Linked DNA regions of Homo sapiens: all the other regions are linked to region 1. The links come from fine-mapping of genetic effects on gene expression. A gene starts in region 1. Each other region holds a variant in brackets. All regions are shown on one strand. Distances are between the middles of the regions.

Region 1 (5,150 bases):
ATTTATTCACATTAAGCATTTATTAAATGCTAGGCCCTGTGCTAAATACTCCACACACATTATTTCATTCAATCCCCAAGACACTCTACCAAGTAGGTCTTATCATCAGTATCAGCCTCATTTACAAAAGAGGAAATTGAGGCTTGGAGAAGTTAAGTAACTCACTCCAAGATACCCAGCTGGTCGGTGATGAAGCCAGAATTAAAAGACAATACTCCCAGAACTTCAGAGCTAGAGGGAATCCTACAATTATCTTTCCCCCTTAGCCTTCTTGAAGCTGAGGTTTATAACTTACTGCCTGGCACATAGTAGGCCCTTGAAAATAGTGATTAATACATTGACGGAGTGCCCTAATTTCTCAGATTCTGGCCTTCCCCTGAGAGAGCCCAGCTGCCACCACAAATAGACTCTATTCTTTCTGCCCAACACCTCTCACAGGTGTGAATTGCTTGTGTCATCTGAATTATTCATGATCCACACAATGGTAAGTGTGCTTTAAAAGAGAACTACAATGCTGTATTTTTCAAGACAAAGTGCCTGATTAATTGGGGAATTAGGCAGTATAAACTCATGGGCTAGGCTGATTCATGCCAAACAATACATCCATGCCCACTTTTTGAATTTCAGTTTTCACATAATTTCCCATTTTCCCTTAGGATTAAAAATAGGGGTAAATAAAGCAGGAAAAAGAACTATCATGGGCATCTCTAACCTATCTGAAAGCAATTACCATCATCTAAATCTCATACTGTGTTGTTTCAAACCAACGTATTCTTCCGAAGGCTGACTTAGGATTTTCAATCAGGTTTCTTAAGCTACATCAAGATCTGGAAATTCAGATGCCACAGCAGCTGTAATTCATGCCACCAGTAAATCATGTGACACCACCAGCTCCTTGTCCTTTCTCCTTTCGTCTTTTCTTTTGCCCCACCAGTTCATTTTCTAGTGGGCAGTTTTCTGAGAGGGATAACCATATGCTAATAGAAAGCCAACACCACTGTATTTTAAATTCAATGTTAGTCAACCAAAATGAATTGAAAAACAGCAGCAGTGGTTTGAGGGTACTAAAAATAAACTGTAGCATTTGCTGAGTTCTCAGAATTAAAACCACGGCGGTCAACTTGTTGCTGCTCTTAATAAGATATGACTTCTGCCCCATTGGCTGCCACTACTAGAAACTTGAACTATATCACACACCTAACAACAACGTGTTTTCAATTAGTTGGCAGTGATCGAGAAAGGAAGTGCCATTTCCCAGGAAGTAAATCTGCCAAGAAAGATAACAGATGGCTTTCAAGTGATCACCTTGTGCCACATCACAATTGCACCTTAGTCAAATTCACCTTGCATTTATGATTTAGTGAGTTACACATCTAAAGCTGTGGTTGCCTTTTTGCCCTGCTTGCTATCCAATGCCTCCAAAAAGGTGTTTCTTCCTTTGAGTTTAATTCGCGAATAATAATAAAAACAGCCCAATGGGACTTAATACAATATTAATATATTGAAGCACTTCCATTAGGACTTCATGACCTTCTTGACCCTTAAATACTGTATACTACCCTAAATGTCTTATCAGCTATCCCTTTGGGTTTGTCATTAAAGTTTTCAATGACCAGAGAGGTACAGGAATTCTACCTAATGCATCATTCTGATTAGAAACCTGTCATACTCAGAAACCAGTGGGTCTGCCTCTATTGATTCCTACTCCTTCAGATTCATTAGCAATTTTTTTCTCTTCAATTAGACCCGATGATCAACCATAGAAAAGCTGAAAGAAGCCTTCCCTTTGCTCAACCATTCTTAAAAGGAAAAAAAATGCATGCCTTGCTAGTGAAATTACAGCCACTATTATCAGAAAATCTCTAAGGAGTCTCTCTCTCTCTCTCTCTCACACACACACACACACACACTCTCTCTCTCTCTCTCTCTCTCTCTCTCTCTCTCGTAAATGTGCCAAGAGTCAGAGGATGGGCTCGACCTCTCTTCCCCTAACCCACTTCAATCAGGATCAGAAAGATACATCCCTTCATTGCTGCTGTCTAAAACCCATGCCCAAGCGAGTGTCTCCATAGAGCTAATTTCTGAAACAAACAAAGAAAATCAAGTCTGCGAGGAGCGAGGGTTTGCTCCCCTCTGCTCCGGATTTGGGTGTCCAGGGTAGCGGGCGCGGCACGGCAAACAGGTCGGGGCGCTCTGCTTCACCCCAACCTTCTCCGCCCCGCCAGCCCCCGCTCCAGCTGCGCCAGAAAGTGCGAGCCTGCCCGCTCCTTTCGCTTTTCGCTCGCTGCACTCCAAGCCCCGGAACACCCGCGTCCGCACACTAAGGGCACCACCGCTCTCCCACCTCTGCGCTGTCAGATGTCAGGCGCGGAGGTGCTCTGGGCACCGAGGTGCTGGCGAACCAAACAAGTATCACCCCGGACGCCTGCCCCCATTCCGAGAGAGCGGGCGGGATGGCCACAGGTAGGCTCTGTCCATCCCAGGCTGCGGGGCGAGGGCAGTGGGGCGAGACCCGGCGCGGCAGCAGCGCCCGACGGGCTGAAACTCACCGGAGGACACCGACGAGCCGGACAGGCTGGAGTTGCTGGACGCTGCCATCTCCGCGCGCCCCTCGCGTCGCTGCTCGCTCAGCCCCGGTGCGGACGCCGCCGCCGCTGCCCTCGCCCGGCCGCTCGCAGCCTCCGCGGCCCCCAGCCCATGGCAAAGTCCTGGGGACGCGCAGAAAGCACCAGCCTCCGGACTCTGCCTGCACTTCCTGCTCCACCAGATGACGCGCTGCCGCCGCCGCTATTTATTTGTGGTTTCCGTCCCGCTCCGCGCCTTTGCACGCTTTTCTATGGGTGTCAGGGGGTAGGTGGGAGCAGAGGGAGGCCGAGGGGCAGCCGGGACGGGCGGATCTCGGCTCCCGCCGAGCCCCTCTGCCGTCCACGCTCCCCTGTGCGCGGCTGGGACCAGGGCGTCCTGGCAGCTCCGAGCCGCCCCGCCAGCTCCCGCACCCTCTCCTGGGCTCCCGCCTCTCCCGCCGCACTTCGAGTAGACCGGGCAGAGGCGGCGGGAGACGGACAGACAGAGCGACCTCCCCCTTCTCCCTCCGCCCCAACTCCGCTCGCGCACACACAAAGGAAGAAGAGGAGACGCGGTCGCTCGGGGGGTGGTTCGGCTGCTGCGGGCTTGACAGCTCCCGCCACTGGGGCTGGAGGGGGAGGCTGCGGACTGCTGGACAGGGGGAGGCGGGACGGGGGACCGGGTCCCCGGGGTGCTGGGGAGGCCGGGGCCGGGCGCGGGGCGAGCGCGGCTGCTGCGCGCAGCGCTGCTCCTAGGATTTGAAGGGGATGGGGAGGGAGGGTGTGGGGGAAGGTGGTGGGGCTCACCGCGCCCCGCCGGGCTCTCGAGCAGCGAGACAGTGGGGGTGGGGGATCCAGAGGGCGAAGGCGGGATCACTAGGGCCACGGTGCTAGGCAGAAGGGAACCTGGGATGACAGAGCCACTATGGAGCGCTCCTTCCACTCCTCTCCAAATTGTCCTTTGTTGCTCTGGAGCTGACGGTCCCTGCCCTGCAAGAAGGTGCGTTTCCTAAAACACCCGGGAAGCCAACCCAGCTACACTTAAGTAACCCAGCCACGGACAGTGCCCGACGCGTCCGTGGGCCTCTGAGGTTGGCCTTCAAAGAAATAGAGCCGTCCAAACGTGTCATCAGGCCCACACAAAGCTGGTGTCAAAGAGAAAGAGGTTCTCCGTGCCTTGCAAAAAAAGATTCTCACAAAAGACTTAAGACTTGGCAGCAGGTCCGACTGTGCCCTTTCAGGATAGGAACTGCTCAGGTGTGTGAGAGAAAGAGACTCGAGCACAAGGTGTGTCCCTTCCCCCTGTATTTAAACCTAAATTAATTTCACTGGGAGGAAATACCATGCAGATTTTTTTTAAGTCTGTTTCACGCTCCCAGCGGGCTAATCGGTTCTTTCAATCCTAAAGCAACAGAAAACTGTGAAATTTGAAGAGAAATTGTTAGATCAAAGGAAAAAGCAAACATTAAAGGAATGAAAGTACTCTCATTATATAGCAAAAATGGAAAGTGTTCACATTGGGGTAGTTCAACTTTTTAAAACATGGTTAAAAGAACATAGTCAATTTAAAAATTATCAGGAGTGACACAGAACAGCAGCTAGGCCCTGGGGATCCACATCAACCAAGGACCTAACATACAGTGAATAATGAATGTTAAATAATCACAGTACGCACCCACGTCACATTTTCTAGTTGATTAGAACTTAAAAAAAAAAATCCCTCCAGGATACTATCCCAGTGTGTCTTCTCATTAAGGTCCATTTTTTAAAAATACACCTTGCTAAACTGTTAAAGGAGTGTGAGCACTCTTCAGTCACGTGGGACTGCGTCTTCCTACCCCTCAACTGTATGGACCTTGAAACAGCCCTGGCTGGTCTAAGGAGACCCAAGCGCCCGCATTTTCCCAGCCCCTACCACTATCCTTCATTTTGTGGACTGCACGAAATGATGCAGTTCCTAATCTGGAGCCTTCAGGGACACGTGACCCATCACACACTTGGCTTGTTGATCAGATCAGAAGGAACTTACTGTTTCCCCAGAGTTCTTCTGATAGAAAACAGCACTTACTTGTTTGACTAGTAATCTATGTAGCCCCCCAGATCTTTAGATGGTGGACTATCTGACTTGGCTATGTCGCCCGGTAGAATTTTACCATCTGGGCTTCGAAGACAACTGGGTTCAAACTCTGGTTCTGTCACTTAGCTGCGAACTTGAGCAAATTACTTAGACCTACTGAGCCTCAGTTTCTACACCTGCCACAAAAATCTGATAACACAGGATGCTGTGAAGATTAAATAAGATGCTATGTGGAAAGCTACAGTGTACCTGGCATGAAGTTTGTGTTCCAAAGTGATTGTAAGTTGCTCACTTTAAGGAAGGAATGTATAGTTTGAAAAATTTTTGCTTTCTTCATTGCATCTGGAGATAACTAATCAACTGTGACCTGTTCTACTAGGGGGAAATGTCTTATCTTCAATCTATGGCTTATATTTCTTGTCCCAAATTGTGCAATAGGGTAACAGGTTTCATTATTCATCTCTGAAATTTCACAAAAGGACAACAGATTATGTTTCTGCAGTTCGGAT
Region 2 (5,150 bases), 41 kb after region 1:
AGTTTTGATAAAGAATTATGACTTCTTGGACTTTTTCTTTAGCTATGCAGAAGCTAAAAATCTGATAATTTAGCATAATGCTTGTGTAAGCTGTGCTGGAGAGTAATACATAGTCGCTTTCATACTAACATAAAGCTCCTTGGTCAAAATTACACCAATAATGCATATTTAATTAGCGTTTATAGATATCTAAAGAGGAAAAAAAACCCACAAAGTTTCCCTCACAGATGACCTTTATCGGGGATGCCTTAGCTGAGTTCCTTCAGATGCCTCAGGGCAAAATTTCAGCCCCAATAAAAGGAGATGACATATGGCTGGTTATTTCACAAGATCGCCATCTTTAGATTGAATTTAACTTTTTTTTCCTCAGAGCTAGAGCTTTATGGAGTTTTCGGGTTTTGGAGGTAGCTTGATGGTACAGTGCCTCAGATTTATAATTTCTAATTAAAATGTGTCCTTCATATCAATTTTAGAGAAGTACCAAGCTTAATTTTGGCATTTAATCATCGAAATTTGTTTTGACATTTTTGAAACACAGATCCCAATACTAAGATGTAATTACTTTGCAACAGATTTGCAAGGAAGGCGACAGGCCACAGAAGAACTTCTAAACACAGGCAAAACCAGACGAGTCCAGTGGGGGAATGGAAGATAGACCTGAATGTCAAAAAACTCAAAAGTAAATATATGGTTTTCCAGTTTTCTCTGTCTGAGGGCTCACCTTGCACACATTAACTCTTCCCTCTCTCACCATGCTTCGCCGGTTTATCCCTCAGCACTCTTTTGATTTAAGGGAAGAAAACCAATATTAAATGTAAAAGTAAGTTTTCTCACTAACAGCCCAAGGGGCACAGCTGGCTAGGCTGTGCAAGAGCACGTGGCCGTCTCTAGATCTATCGGCTCAGGGCCTATTTCCCAGCTCACAGACCCTGACAGGACGCTCCGATGTGGTCTGAAGGACAGAGGGCATTTAGAAATGTCCTCGCCTTTCCAGGTGTCCTGAGGCCTAGAAAAAAAAAATCCATCACAAGGATGAGATTTGTCAACAGGACCCCTCCAGCCAGCCTACCCTCCTGGCTCCCGATGAGGGAGGACTGTCCACGGTTGACCTTGCTAAAGGACAGGATTTAAAAACACGGAAGCAGGACGATGATTGGAAGAATCCAAAGCTTGTATTCCAAGCTTCAGATTGGAGTGGAGGCAGCTAGACAAAGAGGTGAGAAAAATGGCAGTTTTGGTGTCAGAGAGACCTATGCTTGAATTCCAGTTCTGACACTCAGTAGCTCTTTGATCTTGGACACATGTTTGAACATCTCTATTCTTCTGTTACATCCATTAGAAAATGGAGAATATAATATCTACCTTTTCGGGTTACAGTAAGGGCTGAATGACCTCATGTGTGATACACTTAGCATGACTTTGGCTGGTAGTAAGGATTTAATACCTTTTAATTTCTTTCTTTTCTCTCAGCCTTGTCTTTCCTCTTAGCATTGGAAAGAGTTCTATTTATTTATTTTTGATAATGGCTTTTTAACTTATGTTGTTAAAATGTAGTTGTTTTCCCTGAAATGGTGCAACCCAAGTTTAGATAATAATAATACTTCTTTATTTTCATTTATTTATTTTTTTGAGATGGAGTGATATGGTTTGGCTGTGTCCCCACCCAAATCTCATCTTGAATTCCCACGTGTTGTGGGAGGGACCTGGTGGGAGGTAATTGAATCATGGGGGCAGGTCCTGTGCTGTTCTCCTGACAGTGAATAAGTCTCACGAGATCTGATGGTTTTAAAGAGGGGAGTTTCCCTGCACAAGCACCCTTCTCTTTGCCTGCCACCATCCATGTAAGATGTGACTTGCTCCTCCTTGTCTTCCACCATGATTGTGAGGCTTCCCCAGCCACATGGAACTGTAAGTACAATTAAACATCTTTCATTTGTAAATTGCCCAGTCTCGAGTATGTCTTTATCAGCAGTGTGAAAATGGACTAATACACGGAGTCTCACTCTGTC[G/A]CCCAGGCTGGAGTGCAGTGGCGTAATCTTGGTTCACTGCAACCTCTGCCTTCCGGGTTCTAGAGATTCTCCTGCCTCAGCCTCCCAAGTAGCTGGGACCACAGGTACGTGCCACCACACCTGGCTAATTTTTTTTATTTTTAGTAGAGATGAAGTTTCACCATGTTGGCCAGGCTGGTCTCAAACTCCTGACCTCAAGAAATCTGCCTGCCTCGGCCTCCCAAAGTGCTGGGATTACAGGCATGAGTCACCGTGCCCAGCCTAATAATAATACTTCTTTAAATATCGATCAGGTGTGAACTGTTTCATGACATCTAGAGTATAAGAAGTGTCATCTCTTTTTATGTTTTTGAAAAAGAATCCAGTTTGAGCTCACACCTGCTGAGTTTGGCAGGAACATCCAAAATCTACAGGTGAAGGGAGGCAAAGAGAAGGGATGGGGAAGCCCCACCCATTTAGCTCATACAGACATGCTAGAGGCTGATTCACTGCATACGAATGGAGAGGGGCCTGATCTCCAGCATTTACACTGCTGTTGCCCTTATTGTTCCTTCACTTACTCAGAGCTGCTGGCTGGGGCCCCTCCTCTGTCTGCTGGCATCCTGTTCCACAGATTCTGCAATGAGAAGCCCACCACCCTCCTCCCCAGGGGCAACTGTCAGAATAAATGAGGCTGTGATGTGGTGACAAACAGGTCCTAGATATTAGTTCAGTTGACTCTCGAGAAATGCAGAGGTTAGGGCTGTCAACCCCCTGTGCAGTCAAAAATGCACATATAACTTTTGACTTCTCCAAAACTTAACTACTAATAGCCTACTGTTGACCAGAAGCCTTATTATAACATAACAATTAATATATTTTGTATTTTATACATATTATATACTATATTATTACAAGAAAGTAAGCTAGAGAAAAGAAAATGTTACTAAGAAAATCATAAGGGAGGCCAGGTGCGGTGGCTCATGCCTGTAATCCCAGCACTTAGAGAGGCCGAGGCAGGTAGATCACTTGAGGCCAAGAGTTCGAGACCAGCCTGGCCAACATGGTGAAACCCTGTCTCTACTAAAAATACAAAAATTATCTGGGTGTGGTGGCACACACCTGTAATCCCAGCCACTCAGGAGGCTGAGGCATGAGAATTCCTTGAACCTGGGAGGCGGAGGTTGCAGTGAGCCAAGATCATACCACTGCACTTCAGCCTGGGCAAAAGTGAGTGAGACTCTGTCTAAAAGAAAAGAAAATTATAAGGGAGAGAAAATGTATTTACTGTTCATTAAGTGGAATTGGATCACCATAAAGGTCTTCATCCTCATTGTCTTCACATTGAATAGGCTGAAGAGGAGAAGAAGGAAGAAGAGGGGTTGGTCCTGATGTCTCAGGGGTGGCAAAACCAGAAAAGGTAGAGAGGTGGGAGAGAAGGTGGACACACTCAGTGTCACTTTTCTAGAAAAAAATCCGTGTATAAGTGGACTTGTGTAGTTGAAACACATGCGTTCAAGGGTCAACTGTAGTTTAAATCAACAGATGTTTATTTATTTCCAAGCCTGCCTCTTTCTTTGGAGGCTTGGGGCAAGAGTACACACAGAGGCCCACATACCATATGTCTAGATATGTAACACTTATAAACCAGGGAACAAACTGTTAAATGAAATATACCCTCTTACCTTGAAAGATATACCTTGATAGCAACCTAGATAATCAATTTGAGTTTATAATTCTGAGACTTCCTGAAGTTCTGTGCTACAACATGGTGGTGTAGAGTGCTACCTTTACACCTGTCCTTCTCCTGGACATCCTTCCCTGTGCATCCCAGCTCTGTAAGCATGGCCTTTGGCCACCCCTCAGATAGAGGATGACTCCAAGGAAGAGTGGCATGCAGGCTCTGGAAGCAAGCTTGTGGACATTTGGGCAAAGAATTCTGAGGTCCTTGTTATTCAGACCATGGAGGAGAATTTGCAAATATGGAATCCACGAATAACAAGGATCGAGTGTATTTTGTTTTGCTTGCCTGTTTCTTGTCAAAATTTACTGAGAGAAACTTAACAATGGGGTGCACCGAAAGAGACAAAATGGCGTTAACTCTTCCAACCGTCTCAGAGCAAAAGAGCCCAGAATTTAACAGCTCTGTGTCAGGTCACTTTTCTACTGAGAAGAAGGGATAATTCCTTTTTTCTTTTTGCTGATAGATCTCTGGGTGGGGTGGATGGGAACAAACTAAGCCCAGGCAATTTATATCACATTAGTGATCATGGTGTCACATGTGGCATAAGACAGGCACTGTATCATTTAGCTAGTGCATTCAGACTCCTTGGCTCAGTAAAGGTGGATAGAGTGGGTAAGTTGTTATGACTTCCATTTTCAAATGAGGAAAGCAAGAAAGATTTAGCCAGGAACTGAGAATAGAGAACAAAGAGACCTGGGGACTGGCTTTCTGGCACCTTTTCTCTTTCTCACTGCTTGGTGCTCCTAGGTGTAGCTGTCTCAGAATCAAGGGGGAATCCTTTAAATCCATAGCAGTTAACCCAGCAAGAAGTTCTGAGCAGTCTAGCCTGAGCTGCCACGCATAAAAAGCAACATAAGGTTTTATGCAATTGCTTGAGCATTCCTACCAAGAAATACCTTTTGCCCATTTTACTTGTATTCCTTTATTTGGTGATGTGACCTAGTTCTTGAAGTTCTGGAAAACCCTTCAGAGGCTATAGAGTCACTTTTCTAGATAACCCACTTTGGATCATGCAACTCTTCATAGGCACAATATGAGTAAGCAGAGCACCTGCACTAACCACTATTTCCATTCGAAGAAAATAAAATAAAACCTAAACAAGAGAAAAAGAGGAGACTCCAAATACTACTTCACCTAAGGGAGTTTGTTTACTATCTGTTTGTCCTTTGCAAATGTCTTTCCTTCAACCAGTGAATGACCTGCTTGCTATGGGCCAGACATTGTGTTGATGGCTATACATACAATTTCGTCAAATCCTCAGATCAGCCTTGTAGGATTGGTGGTGTTCTCTTCCCATACATGAGAAGGCTAAGGCTTAGAGAGGTTAATTAACACAGCAAAGGTCACACAGCTAATGAGTGGCTGAGCTGGGATTCAGATGCCATCGGTCTACTCCTAAGGCCATGCCCTTAATCAGA
Region 3 (5,150 bases), 280 kb before region 1:
GGAAGAAAAAGAATTTACAAGTCCATGAAGATCCATCCTCTCATCACTAGTAGTGTATCCACAGGATGCAAAAAAATCAAGGATTTCTGCTAAAAATCAAAAAAACACTTTCTTAAGGCCAAAAAAAATTAATGAGGATAAAAATGGAAAACAGAGTAAAAAAAAAAAAAAAAACGGGAGGCATTTAATGCTCCAAATTAGACCTGTCAATATTCAGTGACGGGAGAAATATGAAAAGCTTTGGCATAGAAGAGGACCTATGCAATGCAATTCTTCACCCTAATGCTAAGTATGTAGGGCTGTATAATTCCATTCCTCAGTTCAATTATAGCATGCAAATGCCTGAGCTGCTGGCTTTCTAAAAACAGATGCAGGGAAACAGACCAAACTAACACCAATGTATATTTAATAGATGAATATTTGTCCTCAGAAAGGATCGGAAAGCAACAGAATAAAATCAGTTTCCCTCGTCACCTCTGACAAAAGGGTTATCTAATTCCAAGAGTCACTTGGGTTACTGACCCTAAAGGAAACAAGAATTTTTTTAAAAGAAAGCAATTCACATTTTGCTTCTCCTGCCTATTGTTTTCTTCCTGGATCCTCCATCTCCACTCTCCCCAACTTTCAAACTGCCAGCTCACTTTTTGGGGTGAAGCCTCTAACTCTAACCTGTCTCTCCTCCTCTCAACTGCAATTCAAGCTAGACAATTTGGCAGCAGCATCCCTTTCCAGCCCTTCTTGGAAAACACTTGGGCAAAGGAAACAGGCCATAATTTTCTGATGGCAGGCCCCTTCTACAAGTACCAGTCTGAAACGAACATAGCGGTCTTTCCAGTTTATAAATTCACTTGGGAAATTCCACTTAACCCCTCACCAGGTTTCCAGATCTTTTTGTTTGGTCTGGTGAGCAGGATAAAGGCTGTGACCAAGGGTGCCCCCCCTGCTAGCCGTACCCGGAGCACAAATAAAAGCTTCTGGATGGCATCTCCTGTCATTATTTGATTTCACAGGTGTCTACGCATAAAGGAAAGGAGTTAGCATCACTGAAAACAAAAGACAAAACACAAAACGAGAAACAGGCAACTGTTTTCCCTTGCTCGGAGACAGCAATATTCTTTACTGAGTGGAAAAGTACTGCTCAGCTCTCAGCAGAACATCTCTGACTGAGAGAGACTGGGCATGCTCTGTGTTTATTTCACTGGACATGGGAACGTGAAGTGGCAATGGGCCCAATTCTCCAAAACTAAGTCAACATCCAGATAAGGTGTTTCCAGGCATAAGCACTGAGCAGACTGCTTTCTGAGGTCTCCAGTTTGAACTGACAGAAAGCGCAGGTGTTAAGCTTATAGCTAAATGTGGAAAGCAAAGGAATTCATTGTCTCTTGACTTTACAGTCAGAAACCAGACGGAAACTATACACTGTACCTTTCCACCTGCCCTTTTGTAACAGAAGAAGGAATGCAGAGGCTTGCTTACCTTAAAGTTGTGTGTCTTCTCATAATTGAAGTGGTTGTCGTTGTGTGTGAGGGCAGCCCTTCGAACCAGGGAGGAGATCTGTGAACAGGCAAAGAGTTTGAGAGGGGGCCAAAGAAAGCCGCCTTTGACACCCACCTTCACCCCGAAGGCTACGGCCAGCAGTTCTTGGCGTTTCCTGCCCTGCTTAGACTTCCGAACCACAGCACACTTTTTCTCATTTTCCAGCCACAGTTCTTCAGAGAACATAGTGCCTGGATCCCAGCTCTTTCCAGTTTGCTCTGCAGAGCCCAGGAAGCCCTGTGCTGTCAGGATTTTCGAACCGCAGCTTATGTTAGGCGGCAGATTTGAGGCAGCTGGGTCCTGTCTGCAGCAGCCTCCGGCATGTGACCTGAAAGGCCCAGTTTGAGTGATGGAGGGGGCCCGGCTTCTGAATAAGGATGGGCCTGTTTTGTGCTATTTCTTAAGGCCGACGTGCGCCTGGAACAATAGCAAACATTCATGTGCACAGCAACCCCCAGAAGCGGTATCCAGTCAGCCACTGAGGATTCAGGGAGGCAGGGGCCGGCAGCCTGCTTTCTCCTGCCGCAGCACATTGCAAAGGAGAGGTCTCTCCTCCTTATTAGCACATTTCACACTCAAACACACCAGCGCACACACCCCCCAGCCAGCTCTGA[C/T]GTTCAAAGTCTGAGGCTGCATCCAATTAATCTGGGGCTCTGAACCCCATCCTGGGCTGAGCTCCAACAGATTAAACCTTTAAACCCTGATGACTGTTTAATCTTATAGGGGTAAAGCCTATGTCTCTTTATTAAAAATCTGCCTTAGCACTTGAAAGCTTAATTTTTATTCTTATGCATGCATTACATTGGAACAGTCTGAGCACCAAATGGGATATCAGAGGAGAGCAAAGCTTTTCCACTCTGAGTTCTGCAAAGTTGCAGAATAAGAGGCAGGATGTCTTGCCTCAGGACACTCCCCGGTCTCTCCTGTCCTTCCTGCACGAACAAACTCTGCTCAAACCCACACAGACAAGACAATATTCCTTACCTAAAATCAAAACATCATAATTGCTTTTCTTTTAAATAAAACATCTTCAGTGTTCATTCTGTTAGTGCCCAAGCCTATGAAAATGGCCTCCTTCCTCTTAAAAGCATCATCTGTTTGATGGTCTCCCATGACCCTAATTCTTTGATCCTAGGTCTCCCCATGAAAAGAAGCAGGGAAATCCTGATGTCTTGGGAGTACTCCTGACTCATTGGTGAAGATTAATGCAGCTAATGCCAGACAGTAAAATTAATGCTTTAGGAACTAGAAAACAAGATCTAGATAACTGGGCCTTTATGTAGATGGGCAGTCCTGTCCTCTACTCAAACAAGGGCCCCATGCTGCAGTCCCTCCAAGCAGCCTTGTGAAGAGTAACCAAAGATCACTCCTTCCCATGTGTAATTCTTTATTCCTGGTAAACACCATGATTTTAACTTGGTTCAAAAGTTCATCCTCCCATTTCATCCTCTCATGACCTTCAATAATAACACCCAATTTTTACGTTAAGCTATTGAGCACAATAATTTACGCTGTGTCAGAGGACGTTAGAATGTGTCAAAGGCACTTAACTCATTTAATCTGCAGCATATGGGTGTGAGGAGCAAGATTTTTATTCCCGATTCTTTTGGATGAAGAGAGCAAGGCACTGAGAGGTAAAGCAATTTGCCCAAGGACATGCAGCCTAGTTTAAGTGGCAGAACCAGGGCTAGAACACAAAGCATCTGTGTCCAGCGCCCATGCTCCTCAACACTGTGTCCTGCTGCCTCGGTACACCCATGTGCTGCCTCATCCTGCCATCAGTCCTGACAAATGCTTTATCTCAGATACTGGTTGAGTCTGGCCTCTCCCTACCTTTCTTTCCCCACATAACTCAGACCCTTGTTATCTCTCCAGTCCACCTTACACATCGCTCTACAACAATCTTCCTAATCCACCCATGCTTCTCCATAGCTTAACTGTGTCCTGGCATTGCTGGTTTTTCATGAGCTGATCCTAATGTACCCAGCTCATCCTATTTCCCTACACTCCCCTCCACAAATCCTACAACATCTCTTCTGTGACATACTTAACTGCTAACCTTGGTAGCTTGCTCTGTTCTTTAGAATATTCTAGCATCCTTTCAACATATCTACATTTTCACCAACATTTACATTCTGATTCTAATGCTACCCTTTCCAAAAGGACTTCCCCAGACTCCCCACTGAAGGCCAACTGTGTCCTCTGAAATCCCATAGTGTTTTATCCACATTTTTCTGATTGCACTTGTCACTTTCTGTCTTGTATTATAGTGACTATAACAGCTCTTATCCCTGCCACACTGAGAACTCACTGTGACATGCTCTATGCTTAATTTGCTTTTGTTTCCCCCTACAAAAGTGTCTAATAAGAGTCCTTGCCACAGTAGACACTGAATAAATATAAGTTGCTAGAAAGCACATGTACATATAGGAAGCCAGGGTTGTGGAAGAAGGTGTGCAAAGAGGACTGCATGGTGCGGGGTCTCCAGTCCCTCCTGTGACCACCCATCCACTGCCTCAGCTTCCAAAGACAAGGTTCCCTCCAGGGGTCTACTCTCTTAATGGGCTTCACCAGGCCCCTTGGCCCTTCTTCCCACTGTCCCATTCTGAAGGACAACTGTTATGGCAGGCGTTAAGTGAAGGCTTGGCATACCTTTGCAGGGCTTCCCATCCTTAGTCTACAGGTAAAAAGATGGAGAGAAGCAAAAAGGGTCCTTTCCCAACCTTCACTGCTAGCAAAGCGAGAGAGACCTTTTGATGGTGAGCCATTTGTGTAAGGGCAAATTCTGTGATGTGGACTGGACTAATGACATGAATATACCATTTTTAGAATCTGATCAAATAACTATTTACATGGAAAGTGGCCAAAAGAATCTCCTCCTTTTGGTCTATGGATGGTTGAATACAATGAGATTTAATATTTTTTCATGTCTGTGCTTGTATGTATAACAAGTAATTTTTATTTCCATTTGTGACAGTGATTTCTTTTTCAGCTATTGATTCAATAGAATTTACCCAAACACAAGACACATTCAGACAAGTGAAGGAACCAACACTATTCCCTTAGGATGCTTCTTTACAGGGGACTAGAAGTGTTAGCCTTTGAGCGAGCATTACTGGGAGCAGTGTGGGTGACCTCAGATCACCCTCTTATTAAGGGAAAACTGATTACAGTAATCTCTTGGCGAAAACTTCTCTCTGAAATAACCCCATCACACAGAGCTCTTTTTTATCTCAGCTCCTCAAGGACAGCTCCTTGCCTTATTTTATATGCTCCGTAATGTCTAATATAGTGTTCTCTATACACAAGGGACATTTAATACATTTGCTGACCGTCTTCTTCTAATGAAAATTTCTACCTGACCTATTTTAATATATACATTCATGAGATGAAGCACATTTCCCTACATGCTCTGTTTGAACCAGGGATTCTCACTGGAACGAATGGTCTTTTGGGCCAGATAATCTTTTGTTGTGGGAGGCTGTCCTGTACGTTGCAGGATGTTCAGTGGCATTCTTTGCCTGTATTCACTAGATGCCAGTAGAGCCCCTCCCCCTAAGTATGTAATAAAAAATGTCTCCAGACATGGCCAAATATTCCCTGGGAAGCAACGC
Region 4 (5,150 bases), 870 kb after region 1:
ATAAAACTGGTCTCTGGTGCCAAAAGGCTGGGGTTCACTGCCCTAGACAGAGTAGGGATGTTGGAGATACAGTGAGTGACACAGGAGGGGAGATACTGATAAGAGTTCAGGAGCCGAAAAGTGGTACAGAGTAAGAATAACTCCTTGAGAGGATGAAGGGGCACTTTGTTTATGACACAAGAAGGAAAGGAAAAGGGTATGGGTAGATTAACTGCTGAAAAAAAGTAAAAGAATTACTACCTAGTTGCTTCTATTTTTCCAATGAAGAATGAAGCAGGGTCCCAAGATAGGAACACGGAGGAAGGGAAGAGGAGAAGGGATAAAAAGAGTAATTTTGAAGCATGGAAAAGTGAAGTAAATAAGATTTGCTGCTACGTTGAATGTCCATTTGAGATTTGAGGGCAAGGATTTAAAGTGAGAACAGTCAGCACAGTTGTGGGTTTTTCTCCAACCAAGTGCAGGCACATAGTAGGTAGTTGTGGGTTTTAACCAGGATTGGGGCTCTCCCAGCCAAGTTCGGTGAGGGGAGGGTATGAAAGAATTAGGGTGCTAATGTTCCTAGTGACAGGGCATGGTCATTAAGCTGGATACAGAAGGAAATGAGGGCACTAAGGGAGGTATTAAAGTGCTGGTCAATGATTTGTTGGTGGTCAATTCGTCAACAAGGCAGAAGAATTACTAGTGAGTACTAGAGTTGGTTAGCTAAAGGACAGAGGGAGGGGACTAAGAATATGGTCTTAGGAGTGGATAATTATAGAAAATGATCATTGGAGGGGACATGGTGGAAGAACTGAGAGGCCAGTTACATTTAAGATTAAAAATTCATTTTGGATACACTGGATAAAGACAATGTGGCACATATACACCATGGAATACTATGCAGCCATAAAAACGGATGAGTTCATGTCTTTGCAGGGACATGGATGAGGCTGGGAACCATCATCCTCAGCAAACTAACACAGGAACAGAAAACCAAAACCAAACACTGCATGTTCTCACTTACAAGTAGGAATTGAACAATGAGAACATGTGGAGACAGGGAGGGGAACATCATACACCAGAGCCTGTCGGGGAGTGGGGGGCTGGGGGAGGGAGGGCATTAGGACAAATACCTAATGTATTAGGGGGTTAAAGCCTAGATGATGGGTTGATAGGTGCAACAAACCACCATGGCACATGTGTACCTATGTAACAAATCTGCATGTTCAGCACATGTATCCCAGAACTTAAAGTAAAACTTTTAAAATAAAAAAATTAAATTTAATTTTAAAAATTCATTTTGAAATTTGACAATATCTCAGCTTGCTAAATGGACTCTGCTTCCATGTTTCCCCTCACCTTCCAAAGTCTAAGATGATTAATTGGAAAAGAGTAAGACCTAAGGTAAATAAACAGAAAAACAATTAGACTACCCACTTAGTAAGTGGGTAGTCCTGAATTTCAAAAATCCGTTAATTCTGTTTTACCCAAGGAGCCAATTGTTCCTCACAGAACCCTTTTCTCAAGTAACACACTTTGGAAAATGCCCATCTAATGCTTTTGGGTAGAAGAGCACAAAGGTCTTTTTAAAAGCTACTTTTTTACTACATCTCTGGGGTAGACCAGTTGGTTAAAATGTGCATTTTTCTCCCTAAGTTTAATAAATGGATAAAATGAGTTACCTAATTTGTGTTCGTCTCACTAAAACTGATAATAAAATCCAATTTCTACATCTTAAGCCAAAGAATCACTTAATAACCAAAATGGGATTTCGTTGATTGCTAACTTCACATCTTTTCTGCTACTGTCAGTGCCAACTTCATGTATCTGACACAGGGTCCCACACTCAGAAGGGGGCCACCCCTTGGAGCATCGGCGCTCTGTGATCATGTTGAAAATTCTTAATAATTTTACCTTTGAATGTGTTTCTCCTAAGTGAAGTCCAGTGGAACAATGAAGTGTGCACTAGGGCTTGGGGCCTCTGCTCCTGTGCAGTCCCCCACTCACCACCTCCCTGCCTCCCTGGGATGGGTTCTCTGCCAACCCTCTCCTGCCCCTAGCCCAGTGATCTCTGTCACCTCACCCCTGGCAAAAGGCTGGACACAAACACAGCAAAGGGTGGAGTTGGGCGCACACTCACACACCAAATTTCGAGGAGGGACTCCAGGCACTTGTGAGTCTATACTTGCCCAGAGAATATACGTGCCTGAGAGAAGATGGGTCAATAAATAGCCAACAAAGAACCCTGTGATAGATTGGGTATGAGAGAGAGATAGAAGAAAAAGAAATGTTTTTTCCCCCTGATTTTTGGACAAGAGGCCCTGAAGTTTCATTTTGTCCTGTGCTCGACAAATTATATAGCCAGCCCTGGCCATTTCGCATGTACAATCATGCTAATAAAGAAGGACGAGGAGGAAGAGGAAAAGAGACAGAAAGAGGAGAAGGAAAAAGAAGAGGAGGATGAAGGGTACAAAAAAAAAGAGGATGAAGAGGCAAAGACAATGCTTGCATTAGGAAGCTAATACTTTCACAACACTTACTAAGTGTCAAGCAGTGTGTCCAAGTTCTTTACATGCTCTAGCGTGTTTAATCCTCTCTACAATCCGTTGAGACAAGTTCTATCATTGCCCCATTGTACAGATGAGGAGAGAGCAAGGCCCAGAGAGGTCAGGTAATTTGCCCAGGGTTTCCCAGGTAGTCAGTGGCAGAGCCATGCTCCACACCTAGGCCATCTTGCTCCCGAGTCCGTGTTCTCCTCTGCTCTCCCATTCTGCCTCTCTGCATTACGTATCAATTACATATACTTGCACCTGCACCTTGGTTTTTACATAAAACTTTCAGAATATGTATCCACTTTGCTTACATTTGTCTTTTCACTCATAAAATTTTCTTAACTTAAGAATTGTCTTCTGCTTTGGTAATCCACAGCTAATGGAAGTGCTGAATAATGTTGACTCTGTAGAGTGAAGTGGACATTCTTCTAAT[A/G]TTTAAAATGCTGTCTTTGCTTAAACAGACAAGTGTCGGCAAGCCTAATTTATTCACCCACCAATAATTATCTTAGCTGAGGATATGGGCCCGTACTTGGCTTGGAACCTTAACATAGAACAATCTCCACCATATTTCCTGTATTCCAGAACTAGATCTTTATGTAACACAGGCCAGTAGGATGCAGGCAGGATCAGGAGCTGCAATTCAGCAAAGGGGAAGGGAAGCCTGGTAAAGCGGAGCTTGAAGCTAGGCTCCTACGTGGTCCATGTTCTTATAGGTGTTTCTTTCCAAACTGCTGGCTTTTATCCCTGCAGCCACCAGCTTTCCTGGGTGGGATCCTCTGGCATTGAACGGCCCCTAGATTCCCTGTAATGGAATTATCTTCTCTTTGAGAAGGGCATTATTTTTTCACCAGTCATTTACACACTTTATAATTTGTGCCGACTACATGGGATTGGTGTTACATCAAGATTACATAAAAGCGGCCAGGCGTGGTGGCTCATGCCTGTAATTCCAGCATATCCGAGGCCGAGGCAAGCAGACCACTTGAGGTCAGGTGTTCGAGACCAGCCTGGACAACATGGCGAAACCCCGTCTCTACTAAAAATACAAAAATTAGCCAGGCATGGTGGCACGCAGCTGTAGTCTTAGCTACTTGGGAGGCTGAGGTATGAGAACCACTTGACCCCAGGAGGCAGAGGTTGCAGTGAGCCAAGATCACACCACTTCACTCCAGCCTGAGTGACAGAGCGAGAACTTGTCTCAAAAAATTTTTTTAAAAATTAAGAAAATTACATAAAAGAAAAAAAAACACTATTTGTAGCAAAAAGATTTATAAAGGGGAATGTTTTCCATGAGAATAAATATGAAAAAGCCTAGCCACCTTCCCAGCCTCCTGCCACCTAGAGTTTTCATCAATTAAACAAACACATTACCCCAAGCACATGGGATAACACTTGAAGCAGACCACGGAAATAATAAAGACACAGACTTCGGGGATGCTCACTCTACCCTTCTGGTGCTGCCTTTGGACTTGATGGGGAAATGGTGGGGCACTCTTGAGAAGAGTGGGCTGGGCTGTGAGCATGGGTAGAGCGGAGGAGTCACCTGCATCCACCTTCATCACCTCCAGATGAACACCGAAAGGCACTGTGTGGATGGAGGGCTAGAAATAGCATTTTCACAAATACTCCGAAGTCCAGCCTCCTCTTTATCTTTTGTTCAGAGAATAACAAAGAAAATACTTCCACTAGGAATCTTGGGAATCAAAGGACGACACACCTTTGCTCTCTTTTACCATAAAGCTACCCTGCAACTTGCCAACATTGAGGGGTAAAAATACTCCAACTTATGGGCAAAGGTATTCTATGTAAATGAGTGGCACAAGTGAAAGATAAATAAGATACACAGGAATTACTCTATAAGAGAAACAAGCCCTTTTTGCCCTTACTAGTGAGTTTTTCAGTTGCCCTTTGACCCACCGATCTTCTATACAGGCCATGTAATATGGCACACCTATTAGGAGATGCCATTTTCTTCCTTTCCCTCCACTGGAGTTTTTCCTTATGGCTCCCTCTCCTTCTCAAGCTGGGGAACAGGTCTCAAGGTACATTCTAGGCCCTGACCTTAAAGAAACCAGAAAAGAGTATTGGAATGACCCCATATGTCACTCCACCCACTGACTTAGTACATTTAACATACAGATAAGCGGGCTTCCTTTAGTCGAATTGCTTGAAGTGCCACAGATAGAATGTCAGTCCAGAATCAAAATCTATTGAGTAGATGATATTTGGGAGGACTTTTCTGGTACTTTTTGTTTTTCTTCCCCACATAATTATTTCCAGGTGTTATATTATCAATCTACAGAAGCCTAAGCAATTTGATTTTGATGAGCCTTGAAATTCTTCCTCTTCAATGTAGCAGCATAGGATGCTGTATTTACGATGATATTCTGTGCCTCTTCTAAGAGTCTAGTATTTCATTCTGTAGAACTAGATGCAGGACATTTTAGGCACGATCCCTGAACCAGGAACTGGTTCTGTCTCTCAGTCTCTTTCAGCCTGAACATGCCTCCTGGGTCAAGCCATGTGGTCCAACTCCTGTCTCAGGCAACCCTGAGAGTGAGGCATTGTAGCAGAGAAGGGAGGCTCTATAGAGAATCAGTGATGTTGGAAATATGTGTA

Direction of the effects. Alleles are on the strand shown, and positions count from the first base shown. SD is a standard deviation of normalised expression in the study named. Not every link is listed here.
For the expression in ovary of the gene that starts at base 2,765 in region 1, allele C in region 3 goes with a higher level than allele T (moderate effect, 0.56 SD a copy in GTEx).

The links.
Region 2: its variant is fine-mapped to the expression of CHN2 in whole blood (TOPMed, PIP 0.94).
Region 3: its variant is fine-mapped to the expression of CHN2 in ovary (GTEx, PIP above 0.99).
Region 4: its variant is fine-mapped to the expression of CHN2 in monocytes (Kim-Hellmuth 2017, PIP 0.95).

What each region holds. Positions count from the first base shown.
Region 1 is chr7:29,192,390-29,197,539 of GRCh38, reverse strand. CHN2 (chimerin 2) reads right to left here and starts at 2,765. Exons shown (of 13, transcript NM_004067.4): 1 at 2,550-2,765. The coding sequence starts at 2,598. It also overlaps a transcript of CPVL not described here. RefSeq lists an enhancer at 1,477-2,112.
Region 2 is chr7:29,151,673-29,156,822 of GRCh38, reverse strand. It overlaps a transcript of CPVL not described here and a transcript of CHN2 not described here. Among named protein-coding and RNA genes, the nearest start is that of CPVL, 7.7 kb to the right of the region's middle. The variant G/A (reference allele first, on the strand shown) is at 2,010.
Region 3 is chr7:29,476,683-29,481,832 of GRCh38, reverse strand. CHN2 (chimerin 2) reads right to left here. Exons shown (of 13, transcript NM_004067.4): 7 at 1,477-1,554. Among named protein-coding and RNA genes, the nearest start is that of PRR15-DT, 84 kb to the left of the region's middle. The variant C/T (reference allele first, on the strand shown) is at 2,151.
Region 4 is chr7:28,318,530-28,323,679 of GRCh38, reverse strand. It overlaps a transcript of CREB5 not described here. Among named protein-coding and RNA genes, the nearest start is that of CREB5, 91 kb to the left of the region's middle. The variant A/G (reference allele first, on the strand shown) is at 2,965.